Linked DNA regions of Homo sapiens: region 2 is linked to region 1. Evidence: fine-mapped expression QTL. Tissue or cell type: cerebellar hemisphere. Region 1 holds a variant in brackets; the other region holds the start of a gene. All regions are shown on one strand. Distances are between the middles of the regions.

The links. PIP is the estimated chance that this variant, and not a neighbour inherited with it, causes the effect.
Region 2: CFAP97 starts here. The variant in region 1 is fine-mapped to the expression of CFAP97 in cerebellar hemisphere (GTEx, PIP 0.98).

Annotation. Positions count from the first base shown.
Region 1 is chr4:185,835,449-185,840,648 of GRCh38, reverse strand. It overlaps a transcript of SORBS2 not described here. Among named protein-coding and RNA genes, the nearest start is that of SORBS2, 26 kb to the right of the region's middle. RefSeq lists enhancers at 806-1,477, 534-1,733. The variant T/C (reference allele first, on the strand shown) is at 2,332.
Region 2 is chr4:185,201,088-185,206,208 of GRCh38, reverse strand. CFAP97 (cilia and flagella associated protein 97) reads left to right here and starts at 2,209. Exons shown (of 5, transcript NM_020827.3): 1 at 2,209-2,311. It also overlaps a transcript of SNX25 not described here. RefSeq lists enhancers at 1,057-1,146, 1,257-1,366 and silencers at 2,126-2,297, 1,907-2,676.

The sequences.
Region 1 (5,200 bases):
ATTTGAAAGAGGGCCAGTACTTCACAGGTCTCAGAGATCATCGCTGGTATTTTTTTTTCCAAGAGTCACACATCTTGTTTCCTCCTGCCTAGTTGGATTTGATAGAAGAAGAAGATTGGAATGGAACTAAAAGGGTTTTGAACCACTCAGATATTCTACAGACAGGTTTAGAGGAAATTAGTAGCAGGGTCATGGATCAGCTATGCAAGATACTAGCATAGTTATTCATCTGAATAGGAGCAGTCGGCCACACAAGAGAGATGCTTATGAAAGAACCACACCAAAATCCAGCTAGATTCTATCTTGTATGAATGAGAGATATTTTTGGTCTGCAAACAAGCAGGCATTCCATACCTTGGCATTCTCTTTGACCCATTTGTGTGAGGTTGCCTTTCTCAGAGCATTTCCATAACACGGGAAAATTGACTTTTGTTTGTTTACCCAAACAATATTCTTAAAATGAACAACCCCTGTTCATCCACAAATGACCGTGGAATCTCGCTATCACTCTTTGCTACTGGTGACCTCTGCCAGTCCTCCCAGGCTGTAGAGCTGTATTTACACCTCACAGAGAAGCACTGGGGTGAAACTCTGCGTGGAGCTGTGCTGCTCAGAGATGCTCCTCTCCTCTCTTTCCACTTCTTTCTTCCACAGGGTAAGACTCATGCTGAGAGGCTGACGATATCCTACATCGTAAGCACATGGCAGGATGCTTTATGTCTCCACTCTGCTTACTGGAGCCCTCTCAGTTCTGTTCTGAGGCCAGTGTGCCCTGTGTTTATGACTCCATCCCTCTAAGGATCCTTCTTTAAACAGGCCAAACATCTAACGCTGCTACAATTTACCTAGGGTTTCTTGTTCCACCTCACCCAGACCCAAAGCACTGAATATTTCAGTTTGTACAAACTGCCTTTATTTTATGGTGGTTCAGCTTTTAATTTACATTTTAGAGTTTTATACGTATGTCCTTTATTGTACAGGACTCAGAAGACAGTCCCATCGAAAAACAACTCTTTACAGCACTATAAACAAATTACAAGCACATAAAGCTTGGAGTACATTCCTCTCTTAAGCTCTCCCCAGGCCTCCTCCCTAGGGAGCGCTCAGTGTGCTCCGGCTTGTTCTTGGGAACTCTGACTGCAGAATACGTGGATGTTGTAAATGCAGCAGAAAAGATCCCTTGCAGCCCTCCTACTGGACCGACCCCTGGGGCCAGGGTCATTGTCTTCAGAACTGCAGTAAGGAAATGAGTCCTGGGTAAAATAGCCTGAGGAATCCCAGCGCAGTGTTCTCAAACTGTTTCAGTCCTGGTCTAATGACTCATTTGGAAATTCTTAGAATCTTACTCATCTTCTCCATGCCCTCTTTCTCTGCTCCAAGCCAGCGGCTGAGGTTAAGTCAGAGGCTTGTATCCAAGTTACCCCGAGTGTTTGCCATTTGCATTTGTCTTCTGACTTAGCTCCCCTCTGCAAGTTTAAAATTCTTTTTCACAATGGGGAGCATAAGTCCCACCGTTACTGGATCTTTCTGAGGACAGACTGCATGTTATGAGAAAGAGCAGTGTTCTCCCCTTCCTTGCAAAATAACATCGTGCAGTGTTGGGGCCTTGAAGAGTCAGTGCCTCAAAGGCAGGGTGAGAAAGAGATGTCCAGTTTATGCCCCATGGAAAGCAGCGGTGCCTGCTGGAAGGACAAAGAAACAACATAGAAATAAACACCGTGAGAACCCTGTGGTGGCTGAGCACACGTCTTTGTGAGCATACGTGATACCTTCTGGTGATTCTGACCCTCTTGGCTGCTATCAGAGACAGGAGGTTCCATGTCAAAGTGGTGAGAGTGAAATCTGGATTGTTACTGTTACTTAACTAGGACTTAACTGGTTTCCCTAGGACAGAGAGCCCGAGGCAGAGGCAAAGCTTACATGCTAATACTGTATGCGAGGAGATAGCGGACATGCCATCCCAGGATGCAAGAGTGAAAGGAGACTGAAGACAAGGCAGGAAAAAAGGCAAAGCAAATGCAAGGTGACACATCACTGAGCTGCCCTTAGTTTCTCAAGAGCTTTTGGGCGGCTGTTGTGTCACATGGGAGTGAGGCCCTAATGGAACTACTGCATCTCGAATCTGCTGGCTCTGCCCTCTGTGTCCTCTCTGAGGGCCAGTGTCAATTCCCCCTCTCCTCCAGGCTCTCCTCCGTGAGCCCCCCAGACAGCCCTTGGGGCAACCAGCGCATCCGTGAGTTGAGGAGGGTGGAGAATTTCCAGGGTTCTGACGCCCCTGGCATGATGGTGGCCTGCCCAAGCCCCCAGGGGAGCTAGAGGCAACCCACAGCG[T/C]GAGGAGATGAGATGGCAGAGGCTGCGGCCATGGCTTCACAGCCATGGGAACAGAGCAAGTTATAGCTAGGCCCACTGCAGCCGGGAAGCTGGGCAGGAAGCTAAGGCCTGTGGGCGGGGCCAGCCAGGCCTGGGTGCAGGTAGTATGGGTCCCGCACACCCTGCTGGGGAGATGCAAGGGACTCTGGCTACAACCAGGTGCTGTAAATTATAAACAACACAAACTTAGAAAAGCATCATCTGTTGGAATTAGTGTCAAATGGGAAATGTTATAAAAGAAGCTGTAGAACTTCAGTAGGGACACAGACTTTCAGACCAGAGGAAATGGAAGGCTGCTAGAGACTTTCTCCACATTCAAAGAAAAGCAAACAAACAAAAAACTTCAAGTGGAAGAGGTGGGACTGGCCCAAGCAGCCCTACAAAAGAATCCAGAATCTTTTTTGTTCTCAAAGCAATGTGGGTTTTTTTTTTTTCTATTAAAGAAATTATGCCTTTGGGGATAGTCTGTATAGTCTTAGAGTAATTTAAATCATTTTTCTTTTGAGATTCTTTTCATATTTATGATTTTAATACTTTATGCTGATTAACTACATAGAGATTATAGGCTTTGCAAAAGGAATATCTCAGCCTGTCACAGTTACATTTGTATGAAACGACCTCACTGCAGGAATGTTAACAATTGTATTAGAGGTTCCGTTTCTAAGTTTAAATAGGAATAATCTACCTCAACCTATTCAGTTAGAACAAAAGCCACTTCCGCAAAGCAATAAGCATGTATCTTCTTCCAACCTAGTTGCATTTGATTAACGATTGCATGAGAACCTTTCTCATACTTAGCTTTTCACCTGGGGTTTTTGAAATGCTTAAGAAAAAAACTATTAAATACAAGCATTTTAAAGCTAATAGTTTCCCTGTTTCTAAAATGTGAAAAACACTAGAAGCTGAAATTCAGCAGTTTCAAAAACATATTTCAGGTTCAGTTTTCCCAGGACAGCTGCAATGCTTGCTGGAAAGTCAATGACATTGCAACTTGTAGGCAGTTCTGGCCTTTCATCTTTTTTTTTTCTAGGGACAAATAGTTGATAGGATCTGTTTGATGTAAAATTTAAAAATCCATATAAACTTGGCAATTTTCCGGAGCACATTTGATAGGAGCAAGTTTACTTAGATTTATGTAATTTTGTTTCTGGTGCGTATAAAGATTAGAACTGAATGTGAGGTCCTATGCAGAGGCAAGAGGTATAATGTGAATAATATAAAGTCTCTCTTCAAAACCCTTCACTCATAATTAAATATCCATAAGTGAAGGGCAGTAAGTAGATGTTCAAGTGCTGTGTGAACAGAAACACCATACAACTTTAGAATTCGAGGCAGCTTAGCTATCTTTGTGAACTGAGGACTCTGGAGTCAAGAGGTCATGGGTGACTCTCCCTAGATCACAGAGCCAGTTTTTAGCAAAAATGCACCTTTTGTTACACTCCAAGTTCTCGCATAATTTCTTTGTCTCTACACTTTTAAGTGTTAAAATTCAAAAGAACATTTTTCTATAAATAATGTGGACAAGAGGTATTTGATCCTTGGGTGTGACTGACATTATAGTTACACAGTGTAGTGTCAAGCTCTGGTGCCTCATGAGCTGGGTTTGAATAGAGACCCCGCCACTTTCTATTTGTGTGACCTTGGCAAATTATGAAACTTTCTGAGGCTCGGTGTGACACGGGGATAAAATTCATGCCCAATTCATAGGTTCATTGTGAAAAAGAAATGAGCGATTTCCCTAAAGCACTTGGTGGTGTGTACATTATAATCACTTAGTAAATATTGTTTGTTGTTATTTAAATTGCTTTTACTAAACTATTATGAAAGACTTTTCTGCTGTTTGTCCTTCTAATCACTATTGTCTTTGTCTGTGTCCCACCTGACCTCTCCTATAAACTGACCTTTTATCTGTCTACTCTGATGAGAGCAATGGCAGAGTAGCTGCTGCTTTGAGCAGAAAGTAAAGCCGTGTGGAAGGGTACAGTGAGACAGTGTGACAGGGAAAGCTTTCAGTTAGCCTCAGCAGGTCAGTATGATGCTCACACATTCACTTCCCAACTGCTTCTGTAAAACGCTCCATGATTCTTCTTTTTTAAGCAAATGAGAAATCGGTTCTTGATCTGAGTCCCAAGTAGACATCTGTAGCTCTTCACCTAAACCTTTTAATCAGCACCACACTGGAGCTCTGGGTCATCGTTTATTACATTCGTATTTGGGTTCCCCAGCAATATTATTATAAATAATAATATTTATTAAGTGAATATTCACTTATTTAATAATAAGTGATATTTAATAATAAATGAATATTTACATTCACTATTTTGGGAACAAGAAGAGCAGCAATAAGCTGGATTATCATGTCAACAGGCTTGATATTCTCCTTCACATCTGTAATAGACGGTTTATGGGACTTCTTCAGGGAAACAGGCCGGGTTGAGCCTCCTCAGACACTCCTCATCTTGGGAAAGTAAGTCTCCCACCTTCAAGGGAGGTTTTCAAAACTATGAGTGTTGGCTCCAGTCCCATCATGTTGGTTGCTGAGAGGAGATAAACTGGCTAAAGGTTTCCTAATACTTAGTCCCCAATAGCTGAACACTGCTGGTGCAAAAAAAAAAAAAAAAAAAAATCCTTTCAAAATTGGCAAAAATACAAACAACAAAATTTAAAATCTTTCCATCGTGATCACCTTTTTTGAACAGTGCGCAAATGAATTGTCACTGGAATTTTTACTTACGTAAGCACATTCTAATGTTCTGTTGACAAATTATTTTTCCATTGTAATCTAGATTCCTCAGGGGAAAAAATGTCATAAGTTCACCTGAATGTGAGA
Region 2 (5,121 bases), 630 kb after region 1:
GGGTGCATAAGTATCTGTTTGAGACCCTGCTTTCACTTCCTTTTAGTGTATGTCCAGAAGGGAAATTGCTGGGTCATATAATTCTATGTTCAAGTTTTTCAGAACATGCCATACTATTTTCCACAGTGGCTGAGTATGCTACATTCTCACAAGCAATGCATAAGGGTTTCGATCTTTCCACATTCTTGCCAATCCTTATTTTCTATTTTTTTGACTAAAGCCATCGGTATCTCATTGTGTTTTTGACTTGCATTTCCCTAATTAGTGGTGTTGAGTATCTTTTCATGTGTTTATTGGCCATTGGTATATTTTCTTTGGAGAAATATCTACTCAAGTCCTTTGTAAGATAAACTTTTGACCACAGTTTGTTTATTTATTTAGAGACAGGGGCTTGCTCTGTCGCCCAGGCTGGAGTACAATGGCGTGATCTCAGCTTACTGCAACATTTCCCTCCTGGGTTCAAGCGATTCTTCTGCGTCAGCCTCCTGAGTAGCTGGGATTACAGATGTGCACCACCACACCTGGCTAATTTTTGTATTTTTAGTAGAGACGGAGTTTCACCATGTTGGCCAGGCTGGTCTGGAACTCCTGACCTCAGGTGATCCGCCCACCTCAGCCTCTCAAAGTGCGGAATTACAAACGTGAGCCACCGCGCCGGGCCAACCACAGTTTAACAACTATCCCTGGAAAGTGGTGCCAACACAGTTTTATTAAGCACTTTAAAAGAAAGTGAAATTCTTGCTTTTTTTTTTTTTGAGACACAGTCTTACTCTGTTGCCTAGGTTGGAGTGCAGTGGCACGATCTCGGCTCGCTGCAACCTCCACCTCCGGAGTTCAAGCGATTCTCCTGTCTCAGCCTTCCGAGTAGCTGGGACTACAGGCTCACGTCACCACGCCCAGCTAATTTTTGTATTTTTAGTAGAGACAGTGTTTCACCATATTAGTCAGGCTGGTCTTGAACTCCTCTCAGGGGGCCCCACCCGCCTCGGCCTCCCGAAGTGCTGGGATTACAGGGGTGAGCCACTGCGCCCAGCCAATGCTGTCTTTTAGGCAACAAAAAGAGAATTGATTATACTTTTGGTAATTAAGACCAACAAGTACAAAATGCATTGTGAAGGACGAAAATAGACAATCCTTACTGGAACTCCCCGGGACAGGCAGGGTAAGACCCATATTTCCTACCCTTCTTTGCACTTAGATGTGAACAATATTTATTAACTACTGGATTGTATACCATTGCTGCTATAACAAATTACTACAAATTCAGTAGTTAAAACAACACAGGTGTATTGTCTTACAGTGCTTAAGGTATTAAGTCTAAAATCAAAATTTGCAGGCTCTAGTTCCTTCCTGAGGTTTCAGGAGAGAATCCGTTTCCTCCTTTTGCAGCTTCTACCTGCACTCCTTGGCTCATTGCCTCTGACATCACTCCAACCTCTAGCTTCTGTGCTCACAGCTCCCACTACTGACTTTGAACTTCTTGTCTCCATCTTATAAGGACCTTTGTGATTCCATGGGGTTCACTGGATAATCCTGGTTAATCTTCCCATTTTGATCCTTAATCACATCAGCTAAATCCTGTCTGCCACATAAGGTGACATATTCACGTGTTGTGGGGACTAGGAGGTGCACATTTTTGGGGTGCCATCATCCTACCATACCTGAGAGTTCAACGAGAAGTTATTGTATTCAATATATTCTGCAGAGATCATTTTTACCTTAGATTGTTTTAACTACCCACCTCGTTTACCACTCGGCAAAGGTCTTTCCATTCTGAAACCAGCCTCTGGTCCACAGAACTAACTAGTGGTATGAACTGAAATTTGCTGATAGAAAATATCACAAACACACAGCCGCCGTTCTTTTTTATTCTTGGTTTGGTAGAGAATTACAAGATAATCAAGGCAGCTTTCCCTATTAACGCACGAGAACAACGGGGCCTACCCGCGCCGCCCTAGGCAGCCGGGAGCAGCAGTAACGCCTCTAGGGCGCCATGGCAACCACGCGGGCTGGACCGCCTTCTTCCGCGGCTCTTCTAGTGTGCGCGTCCCTGGCCCGGCCTCCACTCCGCCCGCGTGGAGCCCCGGCCTGGCCGCCTGCCCGCCGCGCTCTGTGACGCCCGCCGCGAGGGCCGCACGAGGCCCGGCGTGCGCCCCCGCCTCTCCCGAAGCGCCGGGCCCCACGCCGCCCCTCCTTTCCCTTTCCGCTCTCTCCGCCTCCGGAAGCGCGGGCGCGCGGCGCCGGGAGCCCGTTCAGGGCCGCGGGAGTGCGCCAGCGCCGCGCGTGGGGCTGTGGTGGCCGCGGCTCTCAGGTGAGGGGCGCGCGAGCGGCTCCTGGCTCCCTGCTCGCGGGGCGCCCGCCACGCTCCTTTCCGTTCGCATCCGTCTCCCCGCTCCGGAGCCCAGGCGGCGGCGAGTACTCGGGGTGGGTTTAACGAAGCCTGCGCGGACGGTGGGAGACCGCGCCCCCACGACAGGGGCGCCCGCGGCGGCGGGTCGCGGCGCCGTTCCACCCCGGTCCCCTGTGAGAATGGCGGGTCCCGCCCTCTCGCGCGTTCCGGGTGGCTTTGAGGGTCAGGATCAGCCCTAAATTGAGATTGGGCCGCGACCACATGCCGGGCCCTGACGACTTCTTCCTACTTGTAGGGACTCGAACCTAACCCACGAGGCCCGAGGGGTTATCTGCCTTCCGGGGACGGTAGGGGATGTAGACAAGAGCCTAGCGTTCCTGGAAACAGGTGTTTAATTTGGGCCGGGATTTTCATGTACCCAATTGGGCATCTTGTTGGAGGCCTACTGTGCTGTTTAACTACAGAAATGTATTGTCACAGTAACAAGATGACAGTTTAAAAAGTGCCCGGTGCTTTTCTGTGTATTTTCCTGATGTTTGGTGAAAGCATTAGTCTTGTTATTGCTGGTCTGTAGGACCTGGCAAGTGGGGCGTGCCCAGTGACTCTCAGGCAGCTTTGATAAAAACTTACCTGTCTCTTTTTTTTATTTTTATTTTTTGAGACAGGGTCTCGCTCTGTGGCCCAGGGTGGAGTGCAGTGGCACGATCATGTCTCACTGCAGCCTCCCAACTCCTGGGCTCAAGCGATCCTCCTGTCTTGGCCTCCCAAAGTCCGGGGATTACAGGCGTGAGCCATGCCCCTCCTGGCAAAACTCTGTCTTGATTGAGCACCAAAGGGTTGTTATGGTCTGATGAACTATCCTTTAATTTTATCCTTTCCTAGTCTGTTGTAAAGAGAATCTTAACTACTTTATTAAGTCATTTTTCTTATTCTCTGGTAAATTGAATCACTTACCTCGTAGTAAATGTTATCAAAAGAATTGCTCAGTGGATGGGATTGTTGGGTAAATTTTCCTGTAAATTAAGTCACATGAGTGTCGAAATCTTTACAGTAACTCTGTTGGATATTATTAACTAAAATTTAAACCTGAAAAGTCTCACAGGCACCGGACTATGCACCAGGGCGCATGAACTGTGACCACTTAGGGAGGCAGCTGGCTTCCAGCTCTTGGGGACTGCATGACCTTATCATGGAAATGCAGATAAAGGCATAGTTGTGGTTTGTGCTTCCGGAGGGGTGGGGGAAGATGGCAGGAAACTATCAAGGAAACTGGGTTGAAACCCGGTGATTTTTTTTGTTTGTTTGTTTTTTGAGATAGGATCTCACTCTGTTGCCTAGGCTGGAGTGCAGTGGCCTGATCTCGGCTCACTGCAGCCTCAGCTCCCAGGTTCCAGCGATTCTCCCACCTCAGCCTCCGGAGTAGCTGGGACTACAGGCGAGAGCTACAACGCCCGGCTAATTTTTGTATTTTTTGTAGAGGTGGGGTTTGGCCATGTTGGCCAGGCTGGTCTCAAGCTCCTGGGCTCAAGTGGTCTGCCTGCCTGGGCCTCCCAAAGTTACAGGCATGAGACTGTAACATGAGCCACCGCACATGAGCCTCCATGCCCAGCCACACACATACAAGGCGATTTTTCTACCCTCGTGGGTAGCAAAGAGCATGGCTCAATCTTAAATCTCCTAACTCCAAACTCCTTTGTGGGATAAACATTCTTTGAATGACTAAATTCATCAGGTTCTCCTTTGGGTACTGGGGTTATAAAGATGAGGAAGTGACGAGGAGCTCCCAGTCTGGCAAGGAGACAAGTGTAGGGGATGGGGGGAAAAACAAAAATCCTTTTTCCTTTAGCTGGGTCTGCAGCTGGGGCTGTAAGGCAGATTAACAGGAGAAAAGGCATACGTATTTTATGTTAATTTTTACAATGACACAGGGCTTTCCTAGAAAAGAAGTGGATAGGCCAGAAAGTTTCTATACGGTGTTTAAAAGATGATAAACTGTGGAGATACGACATGAAGAGATCATAAAACCAGGTGGAGGGTTAGACCTCTAGGGATTGAAACTATGGGACGGTAAATACAGGCATACCTTGGAGATATTTTGGTTGCTTGCAGACCACCACAATAAATTAAATCTTGGAATAAAGCGAGTCACATGAATTTTTTGGTTTCCCAGTGCATATAAAAGTTATGTTTACACTATACCGTGGTCTGTTAAGGGTACAATGGTATTATGCTTAAGAAATGTACATACGTTATCTAAAAAATAATTTATGGCTAAAAAATGCTGTCAATCATCTGAGCCTTCAGGGAGTTGTAATTTTTTTTTGCTGGTGGAGGGTCTTGCCTCACTGTTGATGGCGGCTGACTGATCAGGGTGCTGAGTGCTGAAGGTTGGGATGGCTGTGGCAATTTCTTAAAATAAGACAATGATTAACTTTGCTTTATTGATTGACTTCTTTTCACAAAAGATTTCTGTAGCTTGTGATGCTGCTTGACAGCATTTTATCCAGAGTAGAACTTTTTTTTTTTTTTTTTTGAGGCGGAGTCTTGCTCTGTCGCCTGGGCTGGAGTGCAGTGGTGTGATCTGGGCTCACTGCAACCTCCGCTTCCTGGGTTCAAGAGATTCTCCTGCCTCAGCCTCCCAAGTAGCTGGGATTACAGACATGGGCCACCACGCCCAGCTAATTTTTTTTTATTTGTAGTAGAGATGAGGTTTCACCATGTTGGTCAGACTGGTCTTCAACTTCTGACCTGAAGTGATCCACCCACCTCGG